7 linked regions of the Homo sapiens genome follow. The protein of the gene in region 5 interacts with the protein of the main gene of each other region in a biochemical or structural test. Each region holds a gene or a part of one and is shown on either strand. Other genes may lie near its edges. The genes, in order: MAST2, GRID2IP, RHOA, MAGI3, RTKN, CARD11 and LDB3.

The links.
Region 1: the proteins of RTKN (region 5) and MAST2 interact in a test that uses a peptide from one of them, tested with the Homo sapiens proteins (one large-scale study listed by IntAct).
Region 2: the proteins of RTKN (region 5) and GRID2IP interact in a test that uses a peptide from one of them, tested with the Homo sapiens proteins (one large-scale study listed by IntAct).
Region 3: the proteins of RTKN (region 5) and RHOA form a complex in vitro, tested with the Homo sapiens proteins (8 studies listed by BioGRID).
Region 4: the proteins of RTKN (region 5) and MAGI3 interact in a test that uses a peptide from one of them, tested with the Homo sapiens proteins (one large-scale study listed by IntAct).
Region 6: the proteins of RTKN (region 5) and CARD11 interact in a test that uses a peptide from one of them, tested with the Homo sapiens proteins (one large-scale study listed by IntAct).
Region 7: the proteins of RTKN (region 5) and LDB3 interact in a test that uses a peptide from one of them, tested with the Homo sapiens proteins (one large-scale study listed by IntAct).

What each region holds. Positions count from the first base shown.
Region 1 is NC_000001.11:46,016,111-46,020,490, reverse strand, and holds part of MAST2 (microtubule-associated serine/threonine-protein kinase 2), read right to left. Parts: intron 896-4,380; coding exon 794-895; intron 1-793. UniProt on the Homo sapiens protein: Appears to link the dystrophin/utrophin network with microtubule filaments via the syntrophins. Phosphorylation of DMD or UTRN may modulate their affinities for associated proteins. Functions in a multi-protein complex in spermatid maturation.
Region 2 is NC_000007.14:6,544,739-6,549,118, reverse strand, and holds part of GRID2IP (delphilin), read left to right. Parts: intron 1-4,380.
Region 3 is NC_000003.12:49,373,605-49,377,984, reverse strand, and holds part of RHOA (transforming protein RhoA isoform 1 precursor), read left to right. Parts: intron 1-2,393; 5' UTR 2,394-2,395; coding exon 2,396-2,551; intron 2,552-4,380. UniProt on the Homo sapiens protein: Small GTPase which cycles between an active GTP-bound and an inactive GDP-bound state.
Region 4 is NC_000001.11:113,648,613-113,652,992, forward strand, and holds part of MAGI3 (membrane-associated guanylate kinase, WW and PDZ domain-containing protein 3), read left to right. Parts: intron 1-624; coding exon 625-716; intron 717-2,401; coding exon 2,402-2,594; intron 2,595-4,380.
Region 5 is NC_000002.12:74,431,423-74,435,802, reverse strand, and holds part of RTKN (rhotekin), read left to right. Parts: intron 1-3,136; coding exon 3,137-3,336; intron 3,337-4,380. UniProt on the Homo sapiens protein: Mediates Rho signaling to activate NF-kappa-B and may confer increased resistance to apoptosis to cells in gastric tumorigenesis. May play a novel role in the organization of septin structures.
Region 6 is NC_000007.14:2,945,770-2,950,149, reverse strand, and holds part of CARD11 (caspase recruitment domain-containing protein 11), read left to right. Parts: intron 1-2,362; coding exon 2,363-2,575; intron 2,576-3,062; exon of another isoform or gene 3,063-3,553; intron 3,554-4,193; coding exon 4,194-4,331; intron 4,332-4,380. UniProt on the Homo sapiens protein: Adapter protein that plays a key role in adaptive immune response by transducing the activation of NF-kappa-B downstream of T-cell receptor (TCR) and B-cell receptor (BCR) engagement.
Region 7 is NC_000010.11:86,726,979-86,731,358, forward strand, and holds part of LDB3 (LIM domain-binding protein 3), read left to right. Parts: intron 1-4,380. UniProt on the Homo sapiens protein: May function as an adapter in striated muscle to couple protein kinase C-mediated signaling via its LIM domains to the cytoskeleton.

The sequences.
Region 1 (4,380 bases), on a different chromosome or scaffold from region 5:
CTAAACTTTCTGGTGTCTCCAAGTGGCCGTAAGGGTAATGAAAAACTCCAGAGCCGAGAACCCGACACCCTCCATGACCCTGTCACAGCCTACCTTCCAGGCTTACCCCTCAGCACTTCTTCAAACCCACCCTGTGCCCCACTGAATGCTCCTTCCCATGCTCCCGATCTGGGAAACTTAGACTCATCCTTCAGTTTGCTGAATAAGCCTCACGTCCCCCAGGGAGCATTCACTGAATGTTCCTTCCAGGGAAGACTAAAGCACTTCCTTTTCCAGGTTCCCGTTACGCTGTGTACTGACCTCAACTGCAACACTTCTTGCAGTATTGTAATTACTATTTACATGTCCTCATGCCTCATGCTTCCCAACTCCACTGTAGAGGAAACATCCCAAGATCAGAGACTGTGCTTTATTCATGTCTGTATCTCCAGTGTCTAGCAGGAAGTAGGTACTCAGTCAAGTATTGCTGAAGATAAAATGAAGGACTCAACTTGTACAAACTAAACTGGGCTATGCTCCTGACGCTTCTCACCCCCAAGACCCCCACTGATGTGAGCCCTGCTCATGTGGGGGTGGCCTAGACTAATAATTCTCCCTGCCGCATCCCCTCAGGACCATACATTTGTCCTCACAAAAACCTGTTTAGTCCCCCAATGGTGGCAAATCATATTTAAATAAGGACCTAAGCAACAGAAATGGCAGTGGTTACCACCACAGTTTTGCTGTCATCAGGATACTTCCTCTATAGTCCTCCTCTAAATCTGCCCACCTGACTTTCCTAGAGTCCACTCACCAGGCATTCCAGGAGACGTGCTGGGCGGGCAATGATAATCATCAGCTTTTTCACCAGCTGCATCACAAAAGCCACTTCTGAGCTCTCTGAGCGCTCATGAGCCTATAGAGAAAAGAAGCGTTGCTTAATCTATTGGCCCAGTGTGGCTGGGCTAAGCAGGACCAGACAGGGCAGAGCTGACTCCAGGGAGAAACAATTCGGTAGCATAGAGAGCTCCGCAAAGCAAGGAACTCAGAGAAGGCTGGCTGGCTGTGAGAGGGAGCGAGTTGCTCATAGGGAACCATTTCTGCTTTAGAACACTACATGACACCAAGAAATGCCACACAGACATACAGCTGTACCTGCTCCTCCATCCAACAAGCCTCACTTACCCTCCAGACCCTAGCTCAAGGGGCAGCTCTCAATGGTGCCTTCACTGATGTTCACTTTCCACCCTAGACTGTAAGGAGTAGAAAGACCTCAAAGCTGAGGAGTCATATGACCAGAAAGTACTTCAGAAGGATCACTCTGGCTGCAGTGTAGAGAGTACACTAAAGAGGGCAAGGCTAAATGCAGGAAAACCCATTAGCAGGCAACTCTAATAATTCAGATGAAAAAGGCATAGGTCAAGGCAGAAGAATGCAGACAAGGGGATAGACGTGGGTTACTACAGAAGCAGATAAGGGGTGAAAGAAGCACGACAGAAGGCAACTACAACTTCAATTTTAGGAAAATTACAATGAATAAGTGAAATAGTAACTATAAGAAGCCATTTAGGTGATAGGTAAAGAATGTACTGCATTTGGTTTTAGAGAAAGAACAGCTAGGCAGAAAAGATAAGCTCAGTTCTGGGCGTGCAGTTTCAGGCACCTATATGAGAGTCTCTTGGGTATCTGCTTGGCCGATGGGCCTTTCTCTTTTTTCCTGAGAACTGCTCTGGTTTCTAGGAGCCACATTTGTACTGTGTGTCTGTACCTTCCCTCCCACCTCTAATAGCTGACCAGAGAGGATCACTTTCCTAGGAATTTAAAAAAGGATAGAAAGACAACTGTTAACGTCAGTGTGGCAGAACCGTTTAAGAACTGTGAAAAGAGATGCATACCTACCATGGAAATAGAGGAAAAGATGCATACAGAAAAAGGAAGAATGAAGACTTCCTGAGCTTCCTGGAGCTTCTGGTTTCTAGTTCTGGTTCCTTCTTAAGGCCTGGTTATATCCCTCGCTTCAATTCTCTAAGACCTACTCCTTTTACTCTTATAATGTTTCCCTTTACTGTTTAAACTATTCTGAATCAGTTTCTATTACGTGCAACCAAAGAATAAGAACCAATATAGGGAAGTCAAAGTGGAGGAGTCCAGCAGGCAGCTGGGTGCACTGATCTGAAGCTCAGGAGAACAGTAAGAGTGGCAGCCACATGTGGGAGTCCTCAGCGTAGAGATGACAACTGAAGACATGGGAGCAGGTGGCAAGACATCAGAGAGAGAGTGGAGGAAAGAGAAAGGGGAGACCAGGCATGCCGGATGGTGCCCTGTGACACACCAGTAGGAAGAGGTGGGCAGCAAAGGAACTTGTGAAGAGGCAGCAAGAGTGGTGAGAACAGTGAATTGACAACTGGGGAAGGAAGTTTAGGAAGTATTCACTGTGCTCCACCGAGAGGTGGCAGAAGATGGGAACTGAAAGTGGCCACAGGATTTGGCAATTGGCCAGTGAGTTCCTTGGTGAATTTTGCCTGAACAGTTTTGGTAGACTGGTGGGAAGGGAAACTGGAAGGCAGAAGATTGAGTAGTAAATAGGATACAAGGAAAGAAAAACAGTAAATGCTATTGTGAATAGTGCCGCAATAAACATACGTGTGCATGTGTCTTTATAGCAGCATGATTTATAGTCCTTTGGGTATATACCCAGTAATGGGATGGCTGGGTCAAATGGTATTTCTAGTTCTAGATCCCTGAGGAATCGCCCCACTGACTTCCACAATGGTTGAACTAGTTTACAGTCCCACCAACAGTATAAAAGTGTTCCTATTTCTCCACATCCTCTCCAGCACCTGTTGTTTCCTGACTTTTTAATGATTGCCATTCTAACTGGTGTGAGATGGTATCTCATTGTGGTTTTGATTTGCATTTCTCTGATGGCCAGTGATGGTGAGCATTTTTTCATGTGTTTTTTGGCTGCATAAATGTCTTCTTTTGAGAAGTGTCTGCTCATGTCCTTCGCCCACTTTTTGATGGGGTTGTTTTTTTCTTGTAAATTTGAGTTCATTGTAGATTCTGGATATTAGCCCTTTGTCAGATGAGTAGGTTGCGAAAATTTTCTCCCATTTTGTAGGTTGCCTGTTCCCTCTGATGGTAGTTTCTTTTGCTGTGCAGCAGCTCTTTCGTTTAATTAGATCCCATTTGTCAATTTTGGCTTTTGTTGCCATTGCTTTTGGTGCTTTAGACATGAAGTCCTTGCCCAAGCCTATGTCCTGAATGGTAATGCCTAGGTTTTCTTCTAGGGTTTTTATGGTTTTAGGTCTAACGTTTAAGTCTTTAATCCATCTTGAATTAATTTTTATATAAGGTGTACGGAAGGGATCCAATTTCAGCTTTCTACATATGGCTAGCCAGTTTTCTCAGCACCATTTATTAAATAGGGAATCCTTTCCCCATTGCTTATTTTTCTCAGGTTTGTCAAAGATCAGATAGTTGTAGATATGCAGCGTTATTTCTGAGGGCTCTGTTCTGTTCCATTGATCTATATCTCTGTTTTGGTACCAGTACCATGCTGTTTTGGTTACTGTAGCCTTGTAGTATAGTTTGAAGTCAGGTAGCATGATGCCTCCAGCTTTGTTCTTTTGGCTTAGGATTGACTTGGCGATGCGGGCTCTTTTTTGGTTCCATATGAACTTTAAAGTAGTTTTTTCTAATTCTGTGAAGAAAGTCATTGGTAGCTTGATGGGGATGGTGTTGAATCTATAAAAATTACCTTGGGCAGTATGGCCATTTTCACGATATTGATTCTTCCTACCCATGAGCATGGAATGCTCTTCCATTTGTTTGTATCCTATTTCACTGAGCAGTGGTTTGTAGTTCTCCTTGAAGAGGTCCTTCACGTCCCTTGTAAGTTGGATTCCTAGGTATTTTATTCTCTTTGAAGCAATTGTGAATGGGAGTTCACTCATGATTTGGCTGTTTGTCTGTTATTGGTGTATAAGAATGCTTGTGATTTTTGTACATTGATTTTGTATCCTGAGACTTTGCTGAAGTTGCTTATCAGCTTAAGGAGATTTTGGGCTGAGACAATGGGGTTTTCTAGATATACAATCATGTCATCTGGAAACAGGGACAATTTGACTTCCTCTTTTCCTAATTGAATACCCTTTATTTCCTTCTCCTGCCTCATTGCCCTGGCCAGAACTTCCAAAACTATGTTGAATAGGAGTGGTCAGAGAGGGCATCCCTGTCTTGTGGCAGTTTTCAAAGGGAATGCTTCCAGTTTTTGCCCATTCAATTCAGTATGATATTGGCTGTGGGTTTGTCATAGATAGCTCTTATTATTTTGAGATACATCCCATCAATACCTAATTTACTGAGAGTTTTTAGCATGAAGGGTTGTTGAATTTTGTC
Region 2 (4,380 bases), on a different chromosome or scaffold from region 5:
GCCACTGACTAGGTCCCAGTACAGCAACCTCCCATGCCATTCACCTTCACTCCTGTCCTCCAGGGCTTTCAGATGGGGTCCTAAGGCCTTTATTTCACTAATACTTGAATGGAACAAAAAGTGATCCTGTGTGCGACTAGGAAATAGTCCGGAGCCAAGACACTCAGTCCCTACCCCTGCCTGGCTATCGGACCCCTGTGGACATGAAGCCTGGAAACTCAGTATTTGCTTGGCGGCTGGGACACTTAAGCTCATAGACTTTTTTTTTTTTTTTTTTGAGGCAGAGTCTCGCTCTGTCACCCAGGCTGGAGTGCAGTGGTGTGATCTCGGCTCACTGCAACCTCCACCTCCTGGGTTCAAGTGATTCTCCTGCCTCAGCCTCCCGCGTAGCTGGGATTACAGGCGTACCCCACCATGGCCAGCTATTTTTTTTTTCTGTATTCTTAGTAGAGATGGGGTTTCACCATATTGGTCAGGCTGGTCTTGAACTCCTGACCTCGTGATCCATCTGCTGCGGCCTCCCAGAGTGCTGGGATTACAGGCGTGAGCCACCGCATCTGGCCAACTTTTTTTACATTATTTTGATTTTTAATTTTTGTGGGTACCTAATACGTGTATATATTTATGGGGTATCTGAGATACTCTAATACAGGCATGCAATGTGAAATAAGCATGTCATGGAGAATGGGGTACCCATCCCCTCAAGCATTTATCTTTTGAGTTATAAACAATCCATCTACACCGTTTAAGTTTGTATTTATTTTTTTTGGAGCCAGAGTCTCGCTCTGTTGCCCAGGGAATACAGTGGTACGATCTCGGCTCACTGCAACCTCCGCCTCCCGGGTTTAAGCAATTCTCCTGGCTCAGCCTCCCAAGGAGCTGGGATTACAGGCCCCCACCACCATGCCTGGCTAATTTTTGTATTTATAGTAGAGACACGGTTTCACTATGTTGTCCAGGCTGGTCTTGAACTCCTGACCTCAGGAGATCTGCCTACCTCGGCCTTCCAAAAGTGCTGGAATTACAGGTGTGAGCTACTGCACCTGGCCTAAGTTATTTTAAAATGGACAATTAAGTTATTATTGGCTATAGTCACCCTGTTGTGTTATCAAGCTCACAGACTTTTCCTCCGTGGAAGGGAATCTGCTCAGTTCTGCCCCAGCAGCACTTGGCCATGGGGTTTGGGAGGTCAGGGAGCCTGGAAACTTTGTCGGAGTTTGACTATTGCAGAAATGCCTCCCAGCCCACTGCCCAGGCATCAGGTCCCCACCCACTCTGGCCTCCTTCAGTGCCCAAGCTTGGTCCAGTCCTAACCCCTTCCAAATTAACCCCCTCAGGAGTGTCTCCTCCATCATGTACCCTAGCCTGATCCCCTGAATGGGCTTTTCTGACCCTGAGTAGACCAGCCTCTGTGGCCAGATACACACACTCGCATACACACAGGACTCAACTCCAGCTTCCCTACATCACCAAAGTCCAGATCTTCCAAAGCTGTGACTTTCTTCCTGTACCCACAACAGGCTCTGCTGCTATAACAAACAAACCCAACATTTTTTATTGTTGTTGTTTTTGAGACAGGGTCTAGCTCTGTTGCCCAGATTGGAGTGCAGTGGTACAATCATAGCTCACTACAGCCTCCAACTCCTGGGCTCAAGTGATCCTCCTGCCTCAGCCTCTCTAGTAGCTGGGACCACAGGTGTGCACCACCACACCTGGCTGATTAAGAAAAAAAAAAAAGACTGGGGAGATGAGGTCTTGCTATGTTGCCCAGGCTAGTCTCAAACTCCTGGCCTCAAGCAATTCTCCTGCCTCAGCCTCCCAAAGTGCTGGGATTATAGGTGTGAGCCACTGTGCCTGACCCAAAATCAACAACTTAGTGCGTTTGCACTACAGAAGTTTACTTTTCACCCACAGAGTCCTCTAGGGGGTCAGTAGACTTTCTAGGGTGGCTTGATGTCCATACGAGGTCTCAGCATTTCAGACTCCTCCATCTCTATGTGAAGCTTCAGGGTTCCCTATGGAAGAGGAAGAGAGCTTGGAAAATTGTGCATCTCCTCTTAGAACAGCACCTGTCCTCAATGCTCATTGGGCAGAACTAGGTACACTGCTCCTCCCTAAGGATGCTGGGAAATGTAGTCTAATGTGTGTCCAGGAAAGAGGGAAGACCTAGAAATATTGGTGAGTGCGAGTAATGCCTGCTACAATCCCAGATCACCTGCCATGGAGCCAAAGGTCTATCCCAGACTCCATCTAATCCCTGCAGAGTTGGAAGGGGGCACGTTCAGAGCTCCAAACAGGGCAGGATGCAAGAGAAGACCTGCCCAGGAGCAGGGCTGGGCAGCAACCCGCTGAGGGTAGAATCCGACAGGCTGCCCAGGCCAGCTGCAGTGTGTTTTCTGGCAAGGAGGAACGGGGAAGTGGAGGATTTTGGTTAGGGCTCGCTGGGCACCCACAAAAGCTGAGAGTGAATCTCCAAAAATGACTTCCTCTGGAAGATGAAGGGCCTCCGTGGAGCCCAGTTGGTTTTCTATCTTTTTTTTTTTTTTTTTGAGACAGAGTTTCGCTCTTGTTGCCCAGGCTGGAGTGCAATGGCGTGATCTTGGCTCACTGCAACCTCCGCCTCCTGGGTTCAAGCAATTCTCCTGCCTCAGCCTCCCAAGAAGCTGGGATTACAGGCATGTACCACCACGCCCGGCTAATTTTGTATTTTTTTTAGTAGAGACAGGCCAGGCTTGGTGGCTTGGCTGGGCACGGTGGCTCACACCTGTAATCCCAGCACTTTGGGAGGCCGAGGCAGGCAGGTCACCTGAGGTCAGGAGTTCAAGTAGAGATGGGGTTTCACCATGTTGGTCAAGCTAGTCGCAAACTCCTGACCTCAGGTGATCCACCTGCCTCTGCCTTCCAAAGTGCTGGGATTACAGGCATGAGCCACTGCGCCAGACTGGTTGGTTTTCAATCACCAGCCCTCCAGTTCTCGCCTGCGCTTTCTGCCTGCCCCAGTTTTTCCTCCTTGAAGTGGCTGATATTTAATAGAAAATCCATTAGTGTCCCGTGATGATACCTCATGCTTAGATGTAGGCTGAGAACATCTGGGTAATAACTGACACCGAAACCGCACTGTAGCACGGGCCCCAGGAGGGAGGAACTATTTTTTCCTCTTTCTTACATAAAACATCTCTGCAGCCAGCCATGTTCTCCTTTGAATTGAGGTTGCTGCTGACTTTGATTTCCAAACTGGCAACCTTCCCCAGCACGGCGCGTGCGTGGGGAGGGGGCGGCTGGTGCTGCCAGCCTGGCCCACTCACAGGGAGGGAAACAGTGGTGAGCTGGGGCCTGCAGGAAGTGCAATGCAAGGCTGCTTTTTGATTCAGTCCCATCCACATTCTCTGAGTGCCTAATATGTGCCAGGCGCTGTGCTTGGGGCTGGACAAGCATGAGACCCCGGATCATCACACCTGGGTGGGGGAGACAGACGGTTACACAGACTCATGGTGCATCTGTGCTAGGATTCAGACGTGTACAGAACGTGGCCTCTGACTGGAAACCCTCGAAGCTTCCCGCTACTTCTCCTCCCCTTTTGGAATCATCTAGAAAGCGGGTGGATATACAGTTCCAGAGTTCAAGAGCGAGCTCTCGGCTGAAGATCGAGGTCTGAGAGTCACTGTCTGGGGTTCTTCGCCAGAGCTGGGTCGTGGAGAGCCTCAAGTGCAATAGTGAACTGCAGTGGCAAAGGGCAGTGGTACAGAAACAGCACGTGTAGACGGCTCCAGACTACAGAAGGGAGGAGAATGAGCAGCTTTCAGGATCAAAGGAGGATTGTCTTTTATTTATTTATTTATGGAGACAGGGTCTTGATCTGTCACCCAGGCTGGAGCTCAGTGGTGTGATCATGGCTTACTGCAGCCTTGATTTCCCGGGCACAAGAGATCCTCCTACCTCGGCCTCCCAAGTATCTGGTAGCTGGGAATACAAGCGTGCACCACCATATCTGGCTAACTTTTTACTTTTTCTTTTCTTTCTTTTTTTTCTTTTGAGATGGAGTCTGTCTCTGTCACCCAGGCTGGAGTGCAGTGGCGCGATCTCGGCTTACTGCAAGCTCCGCCTCCCGGGTTCACACCATTCTCCTGCCTCAGCCTCCCGAGTAGCTGGGACTACAGGCGCCCGCCATCACGCCCACCTGGCTAATTTTTTTTCTATTTTTAGTAGAGACGGGGTTTCACCGTGTCAGTTGGGATGGTCTCGATCTCCTGACCTTGTGATCCGCCTGCCTCGGCCTCCCAAAGTGCTGGGATTACAGGCATGAGCCACCGCGCCCGGCTGTCTTTCATTTTTTAGAGACAGGGTCTGGTTATGTTGCCCAGGCTGGTCTCCAACTCCTGG
Region 3 (4,380 bases), on a different chromosome or scaffold from region 5:
TAGAAACGGGGTTTTGCTGGGTTGGTCAGGCTGGTCTCGAACTCCTGACCTCAAGTGTTCTGCTTGCCTCAGCCTCCCAAAGTGCTGGGATTACAGGTGTGAGCTACCGTGCCCAGCCCAAAAAGAGTTCTTTATGATTTCAACCTTGCAAGAGATCCTGAGCCAGACCACCAACCTAAGCTGCTTTTTTGTAGTTGAGTCATAAGAGTTTGAGACAAGGTTCCACTCTGTCACCCAGGCTGGAGTGCAGTGATGCAATCATAGCTCACCACATCCTCCACCTCCTGGGCTCAAGCAATCCTCCCACCTCAGCCTCCTTGGTAGCTGGGACTACAGGTGCATGCTACCACAACTGGCTGATTTTTTTTTTTTTCTTTTCCTTCTTTTTTTAGAGACAGTGTCTCACTGGGGTTCCCCAGGCTGGAGTGTAGTGATGCAATCTCAGCTCACTGCAGCTTCCACCTCCAGGGCTCAGGGGATTATCCCACCTGAGCCTCCCAAGTAACTGTGATTAGCATGCACCACCGCTCCTGGCTAATTTTTTGTATTTTTAGTAGAGACAGGGTTTCACTATGTTTCCCAGGCTCGTCTTGAACTCCTGGACTCTCAAGCAGTCCACCTGTTTCGGCCTCCCAGATTGCTGGGATTATAGGCGTGAGCCACTGCGCCCGGCCCTTTTCTTTCTCCCCTCCCCTCTCATGCTTCCGTCCGTCCTTCCTTTCTCAGTGTCTCACTATGTTGTCAGGGCTGGTCTCTTAACTCCTGGGCCTGAGCATTCCTCCTGCTTCAGTCTCCCAAAGTGTTGGGATTACAGACATGAACCACTGTGCTCGGCCTCAATTGATTTTTCTTTTTTGAGACGGAGTTTCGCTCTTGTTGCCCAGGCTGGAGTGCAATGGCATGATCTCGGCTCACCACAACCTCTGCCTCCCGGGTTCAAGCGATTCTCCTGCCTCTTGCTCCTGTGTAGCTAGGATTATAGGCATGTGCCACCACGCCTGGCTAATTTTGTATTTTTGGTAGAGATGGGGTTTCTCCATGTTGGCCAGGCTGGTCTCAAACTCCTGACCTCAGGTGATCTGCCTGCCTCGGCCTCCCAAAATGCTGGGATTATAGGCGTGAGCCACCGCGCCCAGCCAAGAATGCTGTTTCTTTACAAACAAATCTAGATTGGTAAAAGAAGGAATATCCAAACTTAGAAAGATTGCAGAATGTCTACCCAAACAACCTGCCGATGACTTTTTTGGTTCTTTCCTCCCTTGGGTACTCCCTTTCATCAGTCCTTTCATTGTTTTTACCCTGCTTGACAAATTGTTTCCTTTTTTTTTTTTTTTTTTTTTGTGAGATGGAGTCTTACTCTGTCCCCCAGGCTGGTGTGCAGTGGCCCGATCTTGGCTCACTGCAAGCTCTGTCTCCTGGGTTCACGCCATTCTCCTGCCTCAGCCTCCCAAGTAGCTGGGACTACAGGTGCCTGCCACCATGCCCGGCTAGTTATTTGTATTTTTAGTAGAGATGGGGTTTCTCCGTGTTAGCCAGGATGGTCTCGATCTCCTGACCTCGTGATCCACCCGCCTCGGCCTCCCAAAGTGCTGGGATTATAGGCGTGAGCCACTGCGCCTGGCTCAATTGATTTTTTAATGTTAATATTGTATCCTGCAACCTTACTGAACTTGTTTATTCTAAAAGTTTTCTTTAGGATTTCCCACATTACAAAATCATCTCATGTGTGAATTGAGATAGTTTTACTTCTTCCTTTCCAATTTGGATGTCTTTTATTTCATTTTCTTACCTTATTGCCCTGGCTAGGACCTCCAGTATCCTGCTGGATAGAAGTAGCAAGAACAGGCCAGGCGTGGTGGCTCACGCCTGTAATCCCAGCACTTTGGGAGGCTGAGGCAGGTGGATCACCTGAGGTCAGGAGTTCAAGACCAGCCTGGCCAACAAGGTGAAACCCCATCTCTATCAAAAATTAGCTGGATGTGGTGGTACGTGCCTGTAATCCCAGCTACTTGGGAGTCTGAGGCAGGAGAATTGCTTGAACCCGGGAGGCTGGAGGTTGCAGTGAACTGAGATTGGGCCAGTGCACTCCAGCCTGGGCGACAGAGTGAGACTCCGTCTCAAAAAAAAAAAGAAGTGGCAAGAACAGACATTCTTGTCTTGTTCCTGATCTTAGGGGGCAGACCTTTTTTTCAGTCTTTTACCATTAAGTATAATGTTAGTTACGAGTTTTTAATGTATAACCTTTTGGTGCCAGGTGGATCGGCGTACTAGAAGTTTGAATTTGAGTATGCTAATAGAGGTTTATGCCCCATGGTTACCAAAGCATGTGTCATCCTGTAAGCTACCTATGACTTCTTGTGCATTGCAGGTAATATCTGTGTTTTGTGTTTCAGCAATGGCTGCCATCCGGAAGAAACTGGTGATTGTTGGTGATGGAGCCTGTGGAAAGACATGCTTGCTCATAGTCTTCAGCAAGGACCAGTTCCCAGAGGTGTATGTGCCCACAGTGTTTGAGAACTATGTGGCAGATATCGAGGTGGATGGAAAGCAGGTGAGTATACTTTTCATAACAACTGATGCCATTTTCCATGTTAGAATATTTATGGAGCATGTAGAGAATTAGAGCTTTTTGCCTCTTCAGTATACCATATAACAAAAATGTTGGAAAGAAGAATCCATTCTCATCCTGCCATCTTAGTCCAAGTTTGTTCTTTTTTTTTTTTTGGAGACGGAGTCTCATTCTGTTGCCCAGGCTAGAGTGCAGTGGCTCGGTCTTGGCTCACTGCAACCTCTGCCTCCCAGGTTCAAGTGATTCTCCTGCCTCAGCCTCCCAAATAGCAGGGATTACAGGCATGTTGCCACCATGCTGAGCTCATTTTTCGTTTAGTAGAGATGGGGTTTCACCAGGCTGGTCTCAAACTTCTGACCTCGGGTGATCCACCCACCTCAGCCTCCCAAAGTGCTGGGATTACAGGAGTGAGCCACTGTGCCCAGCCTTCCCCCAGGTTTAAAGGATTCTCCTGCCTCAGCCTCCCCAGTAGCTGGGATTACGGGAATATGCCACCACACCTGGCTGATTTTTGTATTTTTAGTAGAAATGGGGTTTCACTACGTTGGCCAGGCTGGTCATGAACTCCTGACCGCAGGTGATTGGCTGTTTTTTCATTTTTAACTGCTACTCATCCAGACTTTGTTTACATTCATATGTATTTGACATGGTGTCCTTAGCATATGTGTTTTTTTTTTGTTTTGTTTTGTTGTTTGAGACAGAGTCTCGCTCTGTCGCCCAGGCTGGAGTGCAGTGGTACAATCTCAGCTCGCTGCAACCTCCACCTCCCGGGTTCAAGCAATTCTTTTGCCTCAGCCTCCAGAGTAGAGTAGCTGGGATTACAGGCGCACGCCGCCATGCCTGGCTAATACTTGTATTTTGTAAAGATGCAATTTTGCCATGTTGGCCAGGCTGGTCTCAAGCTCCTGACCTCAGATGATCCACCTGCCTCAGCCTCCCAAAGTGCTGGGATTACAGGCGTGAGCCACCTTGCCCAGCCATATGTGCTCTTTTCAAGTTTACGTATATTTGAAGTTTAGTTCATTGCCATATAGATAATGCTCAGATGAACTTCTTTGTATGCTTGGACTTTGACAAAAATTCTGTCAAAGTATTTAATCAGATGTCCCAGTATTAGATTACTAGTTCAAGCTCTGCCTCCTGGGTTCACGCTGTTCTCCTGCCTCATCCTCCCAAGTAGCTGGGACTACAGGTGTCCACCACCAGACTGGCTAATTTTTTGTATTTTTAGTAGAGACGGGGTTTCACCGTGTTAGCCAGGATGGTCTCGATCTCCTGATCTTGTGATCTGCCCGTCTCGGCCTCCCAAAGTGCTGGGATTACAGGCATGAGCCACTGTGCCCGGCCAAAAGATTTTTTTTTACTTTAACATAAAATAGCCTGCCACAGTTGTTTTATTTTATTGTCATTGATGGTGAGAACAGTGCTTCCCCATTTCTGTCCTAAAAGCCCTCTGGCAAGACTGGAACAAAGCTCTTGTGAAATTGGAGGGTTTTTTTGGGTTTTAATTTTGGTTTTGGTTTGTTTTTGTTTTTTTTTTTAATCTTCTGCTTCCTTTTGTTGTCTAAGTAATGCTTTGCTTGGCCTCTCATACTTTTTTTTTTTTCTCTTAAATAAAGAGACAGGGATTGTACTTTGTCTCCCAGGCCTGCAGTGCTGTGACATGATCATGCAGCCTTGAACTCTTGGGCTCAAGTGATCCTTCCACCTCAGCCTCCCAAATAGCTGGCACTGTAGGTATGTGCCACCACACCTGGGTAATTTATGTTTTTAGAGATGAGGTCTTGTGTTGGTCCAGCTGGTTTCAAACA
Region 4 (4,380 bases), on a different chromosome or scaffold from region 5:
ATCTTAGCTTCACCACTTGCTATGTGACAATGGCCAACTTACTTACACCCTCAGTTTTCCCACCTAGAAAATGGGGCTAATAATAAATGTTAGCTCTTAATTATTTTCCTTTAAAATGCTATCATTTTGCAAAACTAGGCTAGGTAAGTAGTTCATATGGAATACTTTTCTGAGAGAAAGGTATTAGCTTGAGAGCAGGAATAAGGTATTTTACAGGCACTCTATACAGCAGTGCCTGTACAGATTTAATGTACCTTACCCAAGTGTTAACTTAGGTCATTTGCACCTGTCAAATATCAAACTCAAGTTTGATCATTCTGAATTCAACATTGTTATATTGATTGGACAGCATTAGAAGTTAATGGCAGTGTAATACTGAGTATATGGAAGTGAGAGTAAATGTTTCTAAACAGTCTTCATACAGTTTTGTTTAGAGCTCAAAACGAGGATTTATAGTTGAATTGTGTGTGTGTGTTACACTCTTGTGCAAATTTTCCATATTAAAAAGTTCTGAGATTATAGTTTATTGAGTTACTCTATAATATCCTACTAAATACTGAACTTTGTTTTGTTTTAATCCTTTTAAAATAAATCATAGTATTTATATTTTCTGATTTTCCTCAGCACCAAACACCAAAGATTTGGATGTTTTTCTTCGAAAACAAGAGTCAGGGTTTGGCTTCAGGGTGCTAGGAGGAGATGGACCTGACCAGTCTGTAAGTGTCACTTCTTTGGAACATGGCTGTTTCCTGTTCAAACGTTTTGAGTGGTGATTTGGTGGATTATGGTGTGTTTTAAGTTTTTTTTTCTCTGACAGTTTCATTAATATGAAGAATAACTGCATTTCCATTATTATCATAGTCCCTCAGTTATTGTGGTGTAGCTGAGGCTAAAAACTGTGGGTAAAAACTGAATATGTCAGCTGCAAATTAGACAGTGATTAATTTATTTACTTCTCTGTGTGAATAACTACATAAAGCTTATTTTAAGTTTATATTTTCCTTTGCCCTCATTAAACAGAGTCTAAGACATTTTCCTTCTCTAAGAAGCCTATAATCCCATGTCCTCTTTCCCACTATTACTCTATCTTCTGGATGCTCCATAAATGGTTGGCATGAGCCTGTGCATATTGTTTCACCTCGTCTTATTAATAGGTTGGCATTTTCATGCTCAGTACTTTGCATGTCATTTCATCTGTTACCTTTGAAACTAGAGGAATATAAAATAATTAATATTTTTGTCCAGAGGCATAAGGGTTATATTTGCAAAGCATTTGAAGTCTAGGATTTTGTTTACACATGATTCTCACATAAACTTGTTTTAGAGAACAAATGTAGTGGGTTTTGTTTCTAAGTTTTGCTCTTGGTTTGAATAACAAAGAAGTAATGTGTTCTGTAGCATTTTTAAGAACATATTTGCATTTTATTTTATATAATATCAATATATTATATATCAAAAAATATGGTTGGAAGTTAGGTGAAGAACAATAATCTTTAAAAATTACAGGCTTCTTATTTCTGAATAGAACATTTGATTTATGTAGTATAAATTTGTTCTAATTGGTCATATTGGTTACAGTTACAACAGTCATTGGAGACACATAAAGCTTAAGGCAGGTTGCCCTATGTAGAACAAATACTAGATACTTTAATTGTTCTTGGTATTTGTATTTTTGTTTTATTGCTTCCTATTTTGTTGATACTCATAATGTTCACTTAGACATTTTAAGAATTTGTCTCAAACAACTTAGAAGAAACCTTTCTTTTCTCTTAAATGTCAGATTTTAGCAGCTCTGAAACTAGCCTAAACATTCAGGATTGCCTAATTACAGGATTCTAATGCTGGTGAGCAAAATGAACCAGATTTGTTCACCTAGATGCAAGTGAAGCTTCAGGCCACTCTGTTCCCGCTGAGATTTAGAAACAAGAAATGTCTCTGTGCTGTGTATATTGAACTTGTACCGTTAGTCATATGTGATGGGAGTACTGTTGAGAATGATCCCAGTTGCTGTGAACAGTATGTAGAAAATCTTGCCTGATGACATTGAACAGACTTTTAATAGCTACTCTGCAGATTTATATTTTCTGAGTTTAGTGTTTTGTTTCATTGTAATGATAGGGATAATGGTTGTGCTTTTTGAGTTATCGAACAACTTTGTATTTTCTATTTTCTTTGTACACAGCCCTGAGGATCTATAAGGGATTACATAATACAATGTGGTTATTTGAAGTGCCATTTTGGAGAATGGGCACTTTCTCAGATAATACCTTTCTAAAATATAACTGTTTTCATAGTTGAACTGCAAAAATCTGTTGGTTTGCACAATGCTAAGTTAGGAATTCCTTAACTCTTCAGCTAAACTTTACACTGTGGACCAAACTGTACTTTGTTATCTTATCAGATATATATTGGGGCTATTATTCCCCTGGGAGCAGCTGAGAAAGATGGTCGGCTCCGCGCAGCTGATGAACTAATGTGCATTGATGGAATTCCTGTTAAAGGGAAATCACACAAACAAGTCTTGGACCTCATGACAACTGCTGCTCGAAATGGCCATGTGTTACTAACTGTCAGACGGAAGATCTTCTATGGAGGTGTGTGAACTTGTTCCTGCTCTGAAAAGTTAAAAAAGAAACAAAGATACTAGTCTACTTCCTGTGTAGTTTTGCAGGTTATTTTATTACATTCAGTAGTATCTAAGATAACCCATTTGGTGTGATCCAGGGCCTCACTGTGGAAGGCTATGCAAACACAAAAGGATTCAGAAATAATACTACTATAAAAAAATAAATTTTGGGCTTCTATATTAAGATTATTTTCATATATTGATGCATTTTGCAAATGTATTATAGGTGGGAGTATTGATTTAAATCCGGTTTTGTTTTGTTTTGTTGAGTTGAGGTAGAGTCTCACTCTGTCACCCAGGCTAGAGTGCAGTGGTATGAGCTCAGCTCACTGCAACCTCCACCTCTTGGGTTCAAGCGATTCTCCTGCCTCAGCCTCCTGAGTAGCTGGGATTACAGGCACACACCACCACACGGCTAATTTTTGTATTTTTAGTAGAGACGGGGTTTCACCACATTGGCCAGGCTGGTCTCGAACTCTTGACCTCAAGTGATCCACCTGTCTCAGACTCCCAAAGTGCTGGAATTACAGGCGTGAGCCACTGTGCCCAGCCTAAATTTGTTTTGTTTTTTTTTAAATAACAAATACAAAATTATTTAGTCATACCAAGATATCCCACTAGCTGAATATACAAAGATTTTTGGATCCCAGTGAAATCTGAGCTACTAAAGGAAAGTAGGATGTTTCTACTTGAGAAGTTTTAGTATAATTTAACATTTATTGAGTGCTTACTATGTCCTAGATGCATGGATTATTTTATTTAATCTTCACAACACTATGAGGTCATTATCTAGTTCTATGATTACTCAGAGAAAGGTTGAGAAACAAATAACTGGTAAGAGGTAGGGCCTGGATTAAAAGTTGCAGTTTAATTCAGAGATCAGGGTTTAAACCATAGCATTAGGATATGAATATCTCTTATAGTTTCTCGCCAGTAGCTTTATGAATAATTAAATAGAAATTCTTATAAGTGAATTCTTTCCACTTTAAAATTAAAAAAATACAACTCTGTAGCACAAGAATATAAGCCTCATGAAGGTATGAATTTTTATTTGTGTAGTTATCTGCTGTAAGCTCGGCACCTAAAAGAGTGCCTGTCTGGTACAAAGTGGACATTAATAAATGTTGTTAATTGGATGAATATTTACATCACTCTTAAAAATGAGGCACTGTATTTTTTATTGCAACATTCAAAGTAAAGGCCTGCCTCCTTTGGTAAATACCAGGCATTTAGAATGCATATAGATTGTAATGCAGTACTGCCTCAATTTGGTTGTGTTGGAGGCCAAATGTAACTACTTACAGTAAAATTGTGATGTTATACAACCTACGCTCTTCCCTGGAAAGAATCATGAAGAAGTTTCATAGTAGTTTGGTATTATTGGAGACATTTTAGCTAATACATTCTAACTATGCATTTTGAAAAAAAAAAAGAAAAAAACATATTCTTAAAACCATGTGAATTTTCAGCCAGAAAGAGACCTTATAAATATGGACATGACTGCAGTGTGTTGTGGTTATTATTAACGATGGTTTGTACCAAATTATGGCAAAAAATATGCCCTTTTTAAAAAATCAGTTAGGACTTTGTGTCATTCTCAAGTTCTGATGTCATCCTTGAAGAGCAGAAAAAGGTGTAGGTTAATTGGCCATTTGTCAGGAATTTCATATGACCCTGTCTATGCCCAGAAGTGTTTGCTATTCATGTGGACAGCTTGTTATGTGTCCCAGCAAGTTGAGGGGTGGAGGTTGGGG
Region 5 (4,380 bases):
GGCTGGAGCCACTAGGGACAGATGCAAGGGCACAGTGTATGGAGGAGAGCTGGTGTGAGGAAAAAGACAGGTTTGGAGTGGTCACATTAGTTCCCCTGTTTCAAATGGATGGCTCGACTTGTCTCCTGAACCAATCTGTACACTGTGATAGAGTTAGTCTTCCAACTCCTCTCTGAAGCTTTCCTTGATCACCTCAGCCAGAAGCAAACAGAGGCTGTTTCTTGTGAGCATGGTTGTGCCATGACATGGCACTTATGGAGCAGCCATTAAAGTCATCATCTCTCACCTCCCAGCTGGATTTTAAATGTACAACCTTGGACAGTACAGGGATGCTCCAGTGTTGACTGAGTAAATGCTGCTACCACCAAAGTATAGCGTCATTAAAATAAGCATCCCTGCCATTAATGTATACCACATGCTGGGCACTGTGCTAAGTGCTTTAAGTTCCTGCCTCACAGAATTCTCACAGCCCTAGGACTATTTCCATTCCTGATTTACAGATGGGGAAACTGAGGCTTAGGGAGGTTGAGCAAATTGCCCATTGCTTTTTAAGAAGCAGGACCTCCAGGGCTCCTTTCTAAATGAATGTTCCTGAGAATCCTGGTGTCTCTTCCAGGGCCTCTCAGCTGGCCCTTATCCACAGTCCCTCATTCCTGGACCACCTACCTTCCCATCCCCATTCCTTGCCTCTGACCTCATCTCCCAAGCTCAGAGGGCCGGTAGGTGGTGATTCTCTTAATTTGGGGTGTATAGGTTTCTGTGCAGCGTCAGTGAACACTGTAGGTGGTATGCTCCTTGTCCACTGATCCCTTGCCAACTAGATGTCCCTGGCATCACTTGAGTCTGAGGGATAACTCTCATTTGCCTTTCCTTCTGTCCATTCCCATGAGTTGGTGGTTCTCAACCTGGGTGTACCTCAGAATCACTTGGGGAGTTTTCCAAAAGTACATATGCCCCACTCCTAGAGATTCTTATTCTGCAAATCTTAGGTAGGGCCTGATCATTTTTTTTTAAACTCCAAAGATCTAATATTTTTTAAAGGAAATACAATTTCCAGTAGTACAAAGGGTATATATAAAGTATCATTAGGCTGGGCGCAGTGGCTCAAGCCTGTAATCCCGCACTTTGGGAGGCCGAGGTGGGAGGATCACTTGAGGCCAGGAGTTCGAGACTAGTCTGGCCAACATGGCGAAACCCTGTCTCTACTAAGAATACAAAAGTTAGGCCAGGCATGGTGTCTCACACCTGCAATCCCAGCACTTTGGGAGGCCAAGGCGGGTGGATCACCTGAGGTCGGGAGTTTGAGACCAGCCTGGCCAACATGGTGCAACCCCGTCTCTACTAAAAATACAAAAATTAGCTGGGTGTGGTGGCTCACACCTGTAATCCCAGCTACTCCGGAGGCTAGGCAGAAGAATTGCTTGAACCTGGGAGGCGGAGTTTGCAGTGAGCCGAGATCATGCCACTTCACTCCAGCCTGGGCAACAGAGTAAGACTCGGTCTCAAAAAAAAAAAAAAAAAAGAATACAAAACTTACTCGGGCGTGGTGGCACATGCCTGTAATCTCAGCTACTCAGGAGGCTGAGGCACAAGAATCACTTGAACCTGGAAGGTGGAAGTTGCAGTGAGCTGAGATCGCGCCACTGTACTCCAGCTTGGGTGACAGAGTGAGACTCGGTCTCAAAAAAAAAAAAGTATCATAAATGTTTTCCATCCCTGGCTCCCAGGCCTACAATCACTAATATTTTATGCATAAACATGCATATCTATATCTATGTATATATATGCATGCATACATATATATATATCATGCACAAATGGTAGTATGTGCAATACTACCCTTCTTTTCTCACATCATTTATTTTGGAGATTGTTTCATATCTGCATACATGTGCATATCTCTTTCCTTAATGTCTGCAATACTACAGGGTACAGATGTACTGTTACTTATTTAACCAATGTCCTACTGAAGGGGTTTTAATTTTGGTGTTTAAAACAATGCCACAATGAGGCCGGGCGCGGTGGCTCACGCCTGTAATCCCAGCACTTTGGGAGGCCGAGGTGGGCGGATCACAAGGTCAGGAGATCGAGACCATCCCGGTTAACACTGTGAAACCCCGTCTCTACTAAAAATACAAAAAAACAATTAGCCGGATGTGGTGGCGGGCGCCTGTAGTCCCAGCTACTTGGGAGGCTGAGGCAGGAGAATGGCATGAACCCCAGGAGGTGGAGCTTGCAGTGAACTGAGATCGTACCACTGCACTCCAGCTTGGGCAACAGAGCGAGACTCCGTCTCAAAAAAAAAAAAAAATGCCGCACTGAATATTTTTGTATGTATGGCTTTACCTAGATATATGTGAAATTATATGTGTAAGATAAACTGCTAGGTATTGGATAGCTGAATTAAAGGATATATGAATTTGTAGTTTTCATAGATTTTTTTCCAAATTGCACTCAAAAGAGGCTGAAGGAATTTATACTTCCAACCATCAAATGCATGAGGGCATCTCTATTTTTCTTATTTGTTTTATATATATATATATATGTTTTTTTTTTTTTTGAGCCAGAGTCTTGCTCTGTCGTCCAGGCTGGGGTGCAGTGGTGCAGTCTCGGCTCACTGCAAGCTCCGCCTCCCGGGTTCATGCCATTCTCCTGCCTCAGCCTCCCAAGTAGCTGGGACTACAGGCGCCCGCCACCACGCCCTGCTAATTTTTTGTATTTTTAGTAGAGACGGGGTTTCACCGTGTTAGCCGGGATGGTCTCGATCTCCTGGCCTTGTGATCCGCCTGCCTCTGCCTCCCAAAGTGCTGGGATTACAGGCGTGAGCCACCGTGCCCGGCTGTTATATATTTTTTTAGAGGTGGGGTCTCACTATGTTGCCCAGGCTGGCCTTGATCTCCTAGGCTCAAGGGATCCTCCCACCTCAGCCTCCCTCACACACCACTGCACCTGGCTACAAAGCTTCTCTGGTTATTCGTGGGCAGCTGAGATTGAGACCCAATGCCTGCTCTTGAACTGCCTAAAACATTAGTTTCTTGTCAGTTTTACTGGCCACAGCCCACCTGGGGACTGGGGAGTGCTTTAGCCTGTCCACTGACTGACATTTCCTTCTCACCCTTCCCCCAACCCTGGCTAGGACACGGAGTTGCAGAGGAAGCTAGACCATGAGATCCGGATGAGGGAAGGGGCCTGTAAGCTGCTGGCAGCCTGCTCCCAGCGAGAGCAGGCTCTGGAGGCCACCAAGAGCCTGCTAGTGTGCAACAGCCGCATCCTCAGCTACATGGGCGAGCTGCAGCGGCGCAAGGAGGCGCAGGTGCTGGGGAAGACAAGCCGGCGGTGAGCAAGGGGGAGACGAGGCCTCGATGGAGGCAGGAGGCCTTCTGGGTGGTGGTGGTGCAGCATGTGCGTGTGTGGCATGTGGACCACCTTAAAGATGACTTCCCCATGAAGTCTTATCAGGGACCTGGGAGAGACCTTGGTGTTTTACCACCACTGTGTGTTGCCCAGAGGCGCATTTGTGAGTAGCCAGGGCAGGACTTAGAAAAGTCGGTGTGTCTGGTGAAAGGTAGCTGATCTGAAGGGTAGCAAGTAATGCAAAAGCACTAATTTGCTAAGCCCTGTCTGTGATCCAGTAAGACTGGCTATCTGGCTTTTGGAAAATTAATTTCCTCAACGCTGGTTCACAAAATCACCAATTTACCACATACTGACAATAGTTTGTTATATCTGGGGTTCACCTTCAGAGGCAGGGAGTGGGAAAGGAAATAAGAAACCACTTAAGGAAAGCCTACCCATTCAAACAAATTAGATTGTGCATTCTAAAAGGGCTCAGCTTCTGGATGTAAAATGTAAGCAACACTGACATTAGACTGTTGATCTGACAAGTCTATAATGACTTAAGTGATGCCATGATAAAACCAAAATATTGGGGAAAATATTTGGCAAATTATTCTAAGAATATGCCAATTTGGATAAAGTGGTCATTTGGAGAACTGGTTTTTAGGAAAGTGGCCTACTTACTCCACTGAGGCTGCTAGGGGAAATAGTCCCAGCCCCTCACAGGTATGGTGCCCATTCCAGCCATGAAGGCTGACACAAGAGGAGGTTGCCAGGAGCTCACCCATGAAGCTACCAGAAGAAGGCAGAAAACCCACTGTATGGCTATCCCATGAAGCTAGAGGAAGGGCAAGCTGGTGGGGGGACAGCCTCTGAGAGGCAGCATGGACAGACTCTGTCCTGCCAAAGTCCTCACACAGCCCACACAGGTGATTTGAGGTACACCCCAAGTGCCTGGCAGCTAAACACATTGCCATTAGTGCCACATCATTTAGCTTAAGGCTCTACTAAGTCAGTAATTACTTTAGTGGCATTATGAGTAAG
Region 6 (4,380 bases), on a different chromosome or scaffold from region 5:
AATAAATGATTTCACAAGGTTGCAGAATACAAGGTCAATATACAAAAATAAATTATATATCTATAGACCAGCAATGAATATCCCACAAATGAAATTAAGAAAAAAACTCCCATTTATAATGTCATCAAATTAATGAAATACTTAGGAATATATTTAACAAAAGAAGTGCAAGACTTGTACACTGAGAACTATGAAACATTGCTGAAAGAAATTAAAGAAGATTTAAAGAAAGACATCCCCCTGTTCATAGATCAGAAGATTTAATATTGTTAGGTAGCAGTACTCTCCAAATTGATCTACATATTCAGCAGATTCACTACCAAAATGCCAACTGCCTTTTTTGCAGAAATTGACATCCTAATCCTAAAATTAGGTAAAAGGCACCTAATAGCCAAAACAATCTTGAAAAAGAACAAGGTTGGGAGACCCATACTCCCAATTTCAAGGCCTACTACAAATCTACAAATCTTCGGTAATCAAGACAATGTAGTACTGGCATAAGGATACACATATAGATCAATGGAATAGAATCAATAGTGCAAAAACAAATGTTTACTTTTATGGTCAGTTGATTGTCAACAAGGGTAGCAAGATCATTCAATGGGGAAAGAGTAGTCTTTTCAAACAAACTGTGCTTGGACAACTGGACATCCACACATAAAAGAATGCAACTGGACCCCTACCTCACACCATACACAAAAATTAACTCAAAATGGATCATCCTCAATGTAAGAACTAAGGTATAATATTCAAAGGCAAAAAACAGGAGTAAGTCTTCATCATCTTGAGTTAGACAATGGTGTTTCGGATACATGCCAAGAGCACAAGTGAAAAAAAGAAAAAATAAATAAATTGGACTACCTCAAAATTTGAAACTTTTGTGCTACAAACAATGCTTTTAAGAAAGTGAAAAGACAACTGACAGAGTGGGAGAAAATATTTGCAAGTCATATATCTGATAAGTGGCTTGCATCCAGAATACATAACAAAATCCTACAACCCAATAATAAAAAGACAAACAACACAATTTTAAAATGGGCAAAGGATTTGAATAGACATTTCTCAATGCACACAAATGGCCAATATGCACATGAAAAGATGCTCAACATCGTTAGTCATTAGGGAAATGCAAATCAAAACCACAATGAGATGCTACTTCACACTCAGTAGGAGAGCTGTAATAAAAAAGACAGACAATAACAAGTTGTTAGCAAGAATATGGAGGAATTAAAACCCTCATGGCTTGTTGGTGGCAATGTAAAATGATGCAGCTGCTTTGGAAAACAATTTGGCAATTCCTCAAAATGTTAAATATAGAGTTGCCATATGGCCTAACAATCCACTCTTACGTATCTACCCAAGGGAAATAAAAACATACAGTCACACAAAAACTTTTACATGAATGTTCATAGCAGCATTGTTCATAATAGACAAAAGGTAGAAATAACTCAAATGTCCATTAGTGGATGAACAGACAAGCAAAATGGGGCATGTCCATGCAATGAAAAAATCACTGAGCAATTTAAAATAAGTGAAGTCCTGATACATGCTACAACAGGAACAAACCTTGAAAAGTTGCTGAGTGAAAGAAGCCAGACATGAAAGACCATAAATTGTAGGATTTCACTTGTATAAAATGTACGGAAAAGACAAATCTATACAGACAGAAGGTGAACGAGTGGTTACACAGGGCTGGAGGAGCAGGGATTAGAGGGAAATTGAGAGTGGCTAATAAAGGGTGAGGAGCTTCTTTTTGAAATGACGGAAATGATTTTAAATTGATTGTGGTGGTGGTTGCACAGCTCTGTGAATATACTAAAATCATTGAATTGAACATATTAAAAAGGTAACTTGTATGCTATGTGAATTACATCACAATAAAGCTATTTTTAAAAACGAATGACTTAGATCTATATGTATCCATCTAGATAAATCTCAAAAAAAAATGTAGAGGGAGAAAAACATGCTGAAAAAGGAAACGTACAGTATGACACCATTTATGTGAAATTTTAAAACAAAAGCCAATAGTATATATTGTTTAGGGAACTATACATTTTTAGTAAGACATAAAAACTTGGATGGAAAGGGTAGACTCAACCGCAGGATTTTCCCTCTCTGCCCTATAAATAATCTTTTTTAAAATTGATGGCTTAAACTTCCATTGTTTATGTTTAGCATATAAGGAAATATATATTTTTATATTCATAACCCCTTTCTTAGACAAAAGGTAAAATGCTATATATACTTTAGTGTACAGGACTTTTTTTTAACTTAATATATTCTAGAGGTCACTCCAGAGGAGTTGATAGAGCTGTTCCAGTGAGACTGCTTTATTAAGCTTGTTGGGGTTTATGTCTAAAAGGAGGAGGGCCAGAGATGGATGACTACATGGAGACGCTGAAGGATGAAGAGGACGCCTTGTGGGAGAATGTGGAGTGTAACCGGCACATGCTCAGCCGCTATATCAACCCTGCCAAGCTCACGCCCTACCTGCGTCAGTGTAAGGTCATTGATGAGCAGGATGAAGATGAAGTGCTTAATGCCCCTATGCTGCCATCCAAGATCAACCGAGCAGGTAACCTTAGGACCTCTTTGCGGGAGAGGGAGGGCTACCGCACACGGCAACTTCCAGACATACCCTTTGGTAGCTGTACCAAAATGAAGTTGCTCTAGGTCAGGGATTTTTAAACTGGGGTCCGCAGTCCATCACCTACTCATTTGTGTATAGAACTCAAGCTGTCTGTGTATGGAACTCAAAGGATCCATAAACTGGGAGGGGGGAAGAAATGCCATCTTTATTTTACCAACCTCAACTGCAATTCAGCATTGCCCTCAATTGCAAATGTCAGGAAGCCACAAATTACAGGAGTGATTAGTAATTCTTGTGACTTAGGCAACAATGAAAATTACAGATCTCTTCCTATCACTACAGTTACTGCAAATCTCTCAAAATGCCACTTACACTCATCTCTCTTTCAAAATTACAGTACTTATTAGACCTGCCGAGAGGTCTTGTTATTTAATGCATTAATAAAGAAGTATGTTACTGAAACACAAATTTATTTAATATTTGATAACTGGATTTTATTATAATTGGTTTCTTTTGTAATCTGATGTACTTTATCTGTTTAAAAATATTCCGAGAAGGGTTCCACAAGCTTTTCTAGCCTGACTTCTGGAGGGGGGGTTTATCATATTCAGTAAAGGTAATAAATATGGTTTGTGAAGCTTGTTTTAATTTTACATTATGTACATGTGTATACACATGTACTTGTAGAGTTATCTTTGTCTATGGTCACTAGACCACAATGTTAAATGTTTTTCTTTCTATGGATCAGTTTAGAAGGTTTGATAATCACTGTCCCCCAGCGTGGCTGGTGGTAAGTGGCTCATCAGCTGCGACTCTCTGGCATCCATGGCAGACATCAGTAATCAGCATGCTTTCCCACTGAGCTTGGATGTAACTTTGGAATGTTTCTCGAAACAGTACTGCAGGCGGCTTCACCAAACAATCGGGGTTGACATACCATCAAATTTATTTCTTCTGTCCGTCCTAGGGAAAAGGTCGAGTTTTAAGACCTACCTTTCTTCTTCTATATCTCAGAAGAATATCTGAAAATAAAATGTTTAAGGAAGGGCCCAGAAATGTAAGCAATAAGTGGAATCAATAGTATAGAAACTGGGACCTGCTGGGGAAATTACATTTAAGGTGTTTCCAGGTTGTGTAATAATCCCAAAGAAAAACCTAGAACTATCCCTACTTCCTATGATTTTTCCTAGCCTCTCACCCAAAGATTTGTCTTCCTGCTCTCAATCCCAGAGAACCATATATTATTCCATAATTTTTATCGTGCTTCCAACCTCCTTCAGTCATAGAAGACCTGGTGCCTACGTGGTTCATTTTGGCCCTGGTCAGTTGGGAAACTCTTCAAAACTGGGGCGGCAATTCCATTTATCCTGGTTCTACCAGTTTATTAGAAACAGAAAACTAACGCTCACCAAATCCCTGCGGAGGGCCTGGCACCTTGATTTACGTCATCTGGGCTCCAAGATACAACTCAGAAGTGATAGAATGTGGGGAGACTGTCTTCTTAGAGTTGATTGAAGGACACAAGTCCAGGATGAGACCAGCCACAGAGACTTGCGTTCCATCAGATATGTATTCTCACAGAGTGATCTGGTCTTTCCCCTAGGCCGGCTGTTGGACATTCTACATACCAAGGGGCAAAGGGGCTATGTGGTCTTCTTGGAGAGCCTAGAATTTTATTACCCAGAACTGTACAAACTGGTGACTGGGAAAGAGCCCACTCGGAGATTCTCCACCATTGTGGGTAAGTGCTTTTGCCATTGGGAACATCTGGACTCTAAGAGGAGGGGCGT
Region 7 (4,380 bases), on a different chromosome or scaffold from region 5:
CTAATGTCAATCTGTCATTGCCTAATCTCGATTTGAGAATTTTTTTTTTTTTTTTTTTGAGATAGAGTTTCTGCTCTTGTTGCCCAGGCTGGAGTACAGTGGCATGATCTCGGTTCATTGCAACCTCTGCCTCCTGGGTTCAAGCGATTCTTCTGCTTTAGCCTCCTGAGTAGCTGGGACTACAGGCACATGCCACCATGCCTGGCTAATTTTGTGTATTTTTAGTAGAGAGGGGATTTCACCATGTTGGCCAGACTGGTCTCAAACTCCTGACCTCAGGTGATTCACCCACCTTGGCCTCCCCAAGTTGTGGGAATACAGGCGTGAGCCACCACGCCTGGCTGATTTGGGAAAATTAAGACACCTCTACTATTTTTTTTTTAACCAGAGTGTCTCAAGGTAAATTTTGGAAATGTATGAAATATCTGTACAGTTTTTACTTGAATAATTTTTATAGACTTCTGACATAGGATGACCCTAGTCATAAAGTTTACGGCCATATACTTTTGGTTCCACACTTCGCTTCCATACCCCGCCATCTGTGGGACACACTGTATTCACTCTGTGTGTCGGTTTGCTAGGGCTGTCTTGACAAATTACTGCAAACTGATGGCTCAAACAACAGAAATGAATGCTTTCACAGTTCAGGAGGCCAGAAGTCCTAAATCAAGGTGCTGACAGGAGGCCATAGTCTCTCTCCGAGCTACTAGCGGTTGCTAGCAATCCTTGGCATTTCTTGGCTTGCAGCTGTGTAACTCCAATCCCTGCCTCCATTGTCACAAGCCTGTCTCCCCTCTGTGTGTGTCTTCACATGACATTCTCCTCTGAGTGTGTCTGTCTCTGTGTGGGTCTCCTTTTTTTTTTTATTTTTTTTTTGAGATGGAGTTTCCCTCTTGTTGCCCAGGCTGGGGTGCAATGGCGTGATCACAGCTCACGGCAAACTCTGCCTTCTTGCACGTGAATTTTGTGGAATACAATTCAACCCCTTAACACTCTGATTTTCTAGCTCTTTGAACAGATTCTCTAGTTGTCTTTTAGGGTGTTTTAAATACATCCCCTCCAAAAAGAGACAATGGTGTAAGTATACTGGCTTTGGGTTTGTCCCCTGCAGAGTCATAGCTCCCCTGTGTCAGGCACAGCACAGGGGTCTCTGAACCTTACATTCAAGCCATGGCTTGTCTAGTCCTGAGGCACTGCCTGCACATCTGGTTACCCAACTTCTGGAAGGATCCAAGAGACTTGGGGAAGGTCCAGGAAGACAGTGGCACAGAAGGCCTGTTTTCCATGGGCAGGCTGATGAGAGGTCTGTGTCACATGCAGAGGGAATCGTGGCAAAGGTGAGTGTGGGTCTGCTTCTGCAAGCCTCGCAATTTCAGCTGAGTCACAACAGCAAAAGTCCAAGAGAGAGACCAGAAGAAGGCGTAAAGCTTGGGGTGGCTAAGGCTGATATTACAAATAAGTTCCAGAGAGTGAAGTCCAGCCTGTGAGAGGCCCATAGCACTGCCCTTTAGAGGATCAACATGGAGATCGTTAGGTCTCCCTCCAAACCAGCCTGCATGATACTCACTGCTCTGTCAACATATAGCAAAGTGGAACATGGTTCTTTTGTTTTTTTTTTTTTTTGAGACAAAGTCTTGCTCTGTCGCCAGGCTGGAGTGCAGTGGTGCGATCTTGGCTCACTGCAACCTCCACCTCCCAGGTTCAAGCAATTCTCTGCCTCAGGCTCCTGAGTAGCTGGGATTATAGGCGCCTGCCACCACACCTGGCTAATTTTTGTATTTTTAGTAGAGACGGGGTTTCACCATCTTGGCCAGGCTGGTCTTGAACTCCTGACCTCATGAGCCACCCACCTCGGCCTCCCAAAGTGCTGGGATTACAGGTGTGAGCCACCACACCCAGCCGGAACATGGTCTTAACATTAGGAAGAAATCTTTTGATTGGAAAACTTTGAGGGACTTGAGGGATTTTTTTTTTTTTGGTCCTCTTTCTATCACTTCATATTTCCAAATCACTTTTGATGAGCATGTATTTTCCTGTAACTTCCAAAAAATTAGTAAGAGAAAGATCTGGGGTAGCTCTCCCAGCTGATGTGCTGTTTTCTAACCAGTGAGATCTCAGGATAGCACATTCTTTAGACTAACTCAGTTTACCAAATATTCCTGGCATTTGGGCAGTACAAGAGTGTTCCAGAACAAGTCTCTACCCTGACGGAATCTAGAATCTTGAAAGGTGAACAAAGCAACAGATGTGAGCAATTCAAAAGTAGAACAGGACAGTATCCCTCAAGTCCAAAGCATATAAAGTGAAGGCTGGGAGCCTGAGAAGTGCACTGTGGGTCAGGGTGAAAGTTAAGCTTCTGTCTGGCGTCGACACTTGAGTTCCAATGGAAAGGGTCCGACCTTAGTGGAGGAAAAATGTCTTACCCATCCCTCTTTTGCTCTAAGTCTTGCCCTTCCCCACTGGTGTGGGTATCAGGAGGGGATGGGCAGTAATATAACTTTTGTAGGCAGACCTAGGGGCTGCTGCAGCTGGCCTAGTTTATTACCCTAACTCTGCTGGGACTTGCAGTCAGCACTGTCCATGGTCGCTACCCTTTTATAGCCAGGCCCTGATGTCACCCAGCCACAGAGCCTGGGGGTTGGACCATCCCTGTTGCCCCCTGTGCTGGGTGGGCAGAAGGCCTCCTCCACTATGAAGCCACCTTGCACCAAGAAGACACTGGGCACAACTCCTTATGAGGGTTCCCACCCTCAGCCCCATCTCACCTATGAGCCATCTTTGAGGTTCTGTCCCTTTCTCATTTGTTGGTCTTCAGTCCCTGGACACCTTCTCTCCCCAGCCTGACTCATCCCAAAGTTCTCACAAGCAACCAGCATTGTCCCAGTCCAGGTATGGTCTCCCACCCACAGCTGCAGTCATTGACAGGCTGACTCATTCCAGAGATGCCTTTCTGTCTTCCCTAAAGCCCATTCTCACCAGTTAGATCTTGGATGTCCATCTTTTTGCATAGTCTTTAAATTGTCACCAGCAGCTTGAGGCCTCCACACGAGCCTGGTTATACTCAGCATCACTGCATCCACCTGGGATGTTTTCAAACACTTTTGCAGCTCATTGGCTCCCAGAACCCAATTGGAAGCCCTGTGTGATCCTAGGTATAACGTCCCCAACTGGACCATCAGAGCCTTGCACATGGGGCTAGCGTGGTGCCCTTTTCCTCTCCAACTCTCTTGGACTGAATACATGCATATTGCCCCAAGCTCAACTCAAGGGGGTGATTTCTCTGTCTCCATGGGGGATACCTGTATGTGGGGACTCCACGTGCACTCCTCTTGATGTCAGTGTCCTGGAGATGGCTCCCAATTCTGCCCCCCAGCAGGGATCTTCACTGCCCTCTCCTAAGCTGGGACCCATGCCAGCCAATGTGATTTCCTGGCAGACTCTGACCTACTGGCATATTGCCAACCCAGGGCCCAGCTTACATACTAGTAGTCCAGCAAACTCAGAGGGCTACATCTGTACAAACCCATGAACCCAGATCAATTTCAAGTAAACACAGTCCCTTTCTTCTATGGGGTAGGGGAAAAATTAGCATAGAACTGGAGTCTTACAGACATGGACAGAGATTCCCAGCCTACAACTTACTAGGTCTGTGACTTAAGGAAGACGTATGGGCCCTCTGAGCCCCAGTTTTTTCAGCTGTGAAGTGGGAGAAAGGCTTACCTACCTTATAAGGTTTTCATGAGAATTAAATGAGCTGCTGTATATAGAGTGTCTGGCATCCTGCTTGGTCCATGGTAGTCCCCACAAATATTAATTAGTTCTCTTCTTTCTGGGATGCCTCCAGCCTCAGACTATATGTTGTCATCATGGGGATATAGAATTTCATCTCTTGGGCTGGGCGTGGTGGCTCACGCCTGTAATCCCAGCACTTTGGGAGGCCAAAGCAGGTGGATTGCTTGGGGTCAGGAGTTTGAAACCAGCCTGGCCAACATGGTGAAACCCTGTCTCTACTAAACTACAAAAAAAATTAGCTGAGTATGGTGGTGGGCGCCTGTAATCCCAGCTACTAGGGAGGCTGAGGCAGGAGAATTGCTTGAACCCGGGAGGCAGAGGTTGCAGTGAGCTGAGATCGCGCCACTGCACTCCAGCCTGGGTGACAGAGTGAGACTCCATCTCAAAAAAAAAAAAAAGAATTTCATCTCTTTTGTTTTTTTGTATATTTCTCTGCATACTTTTCCATATCTACCTTTTTTTTTTTTTTTTTGAGACGGAATCTCGCTCTGTCGCCCAGGCTTGGGTACAGTGGCATGATCTCAGCTCACTGAAACCTCCGTCTTCCGGGTTCAAGTGATTCTCCTGCCTCAGCCTCCTGAGTAGCTG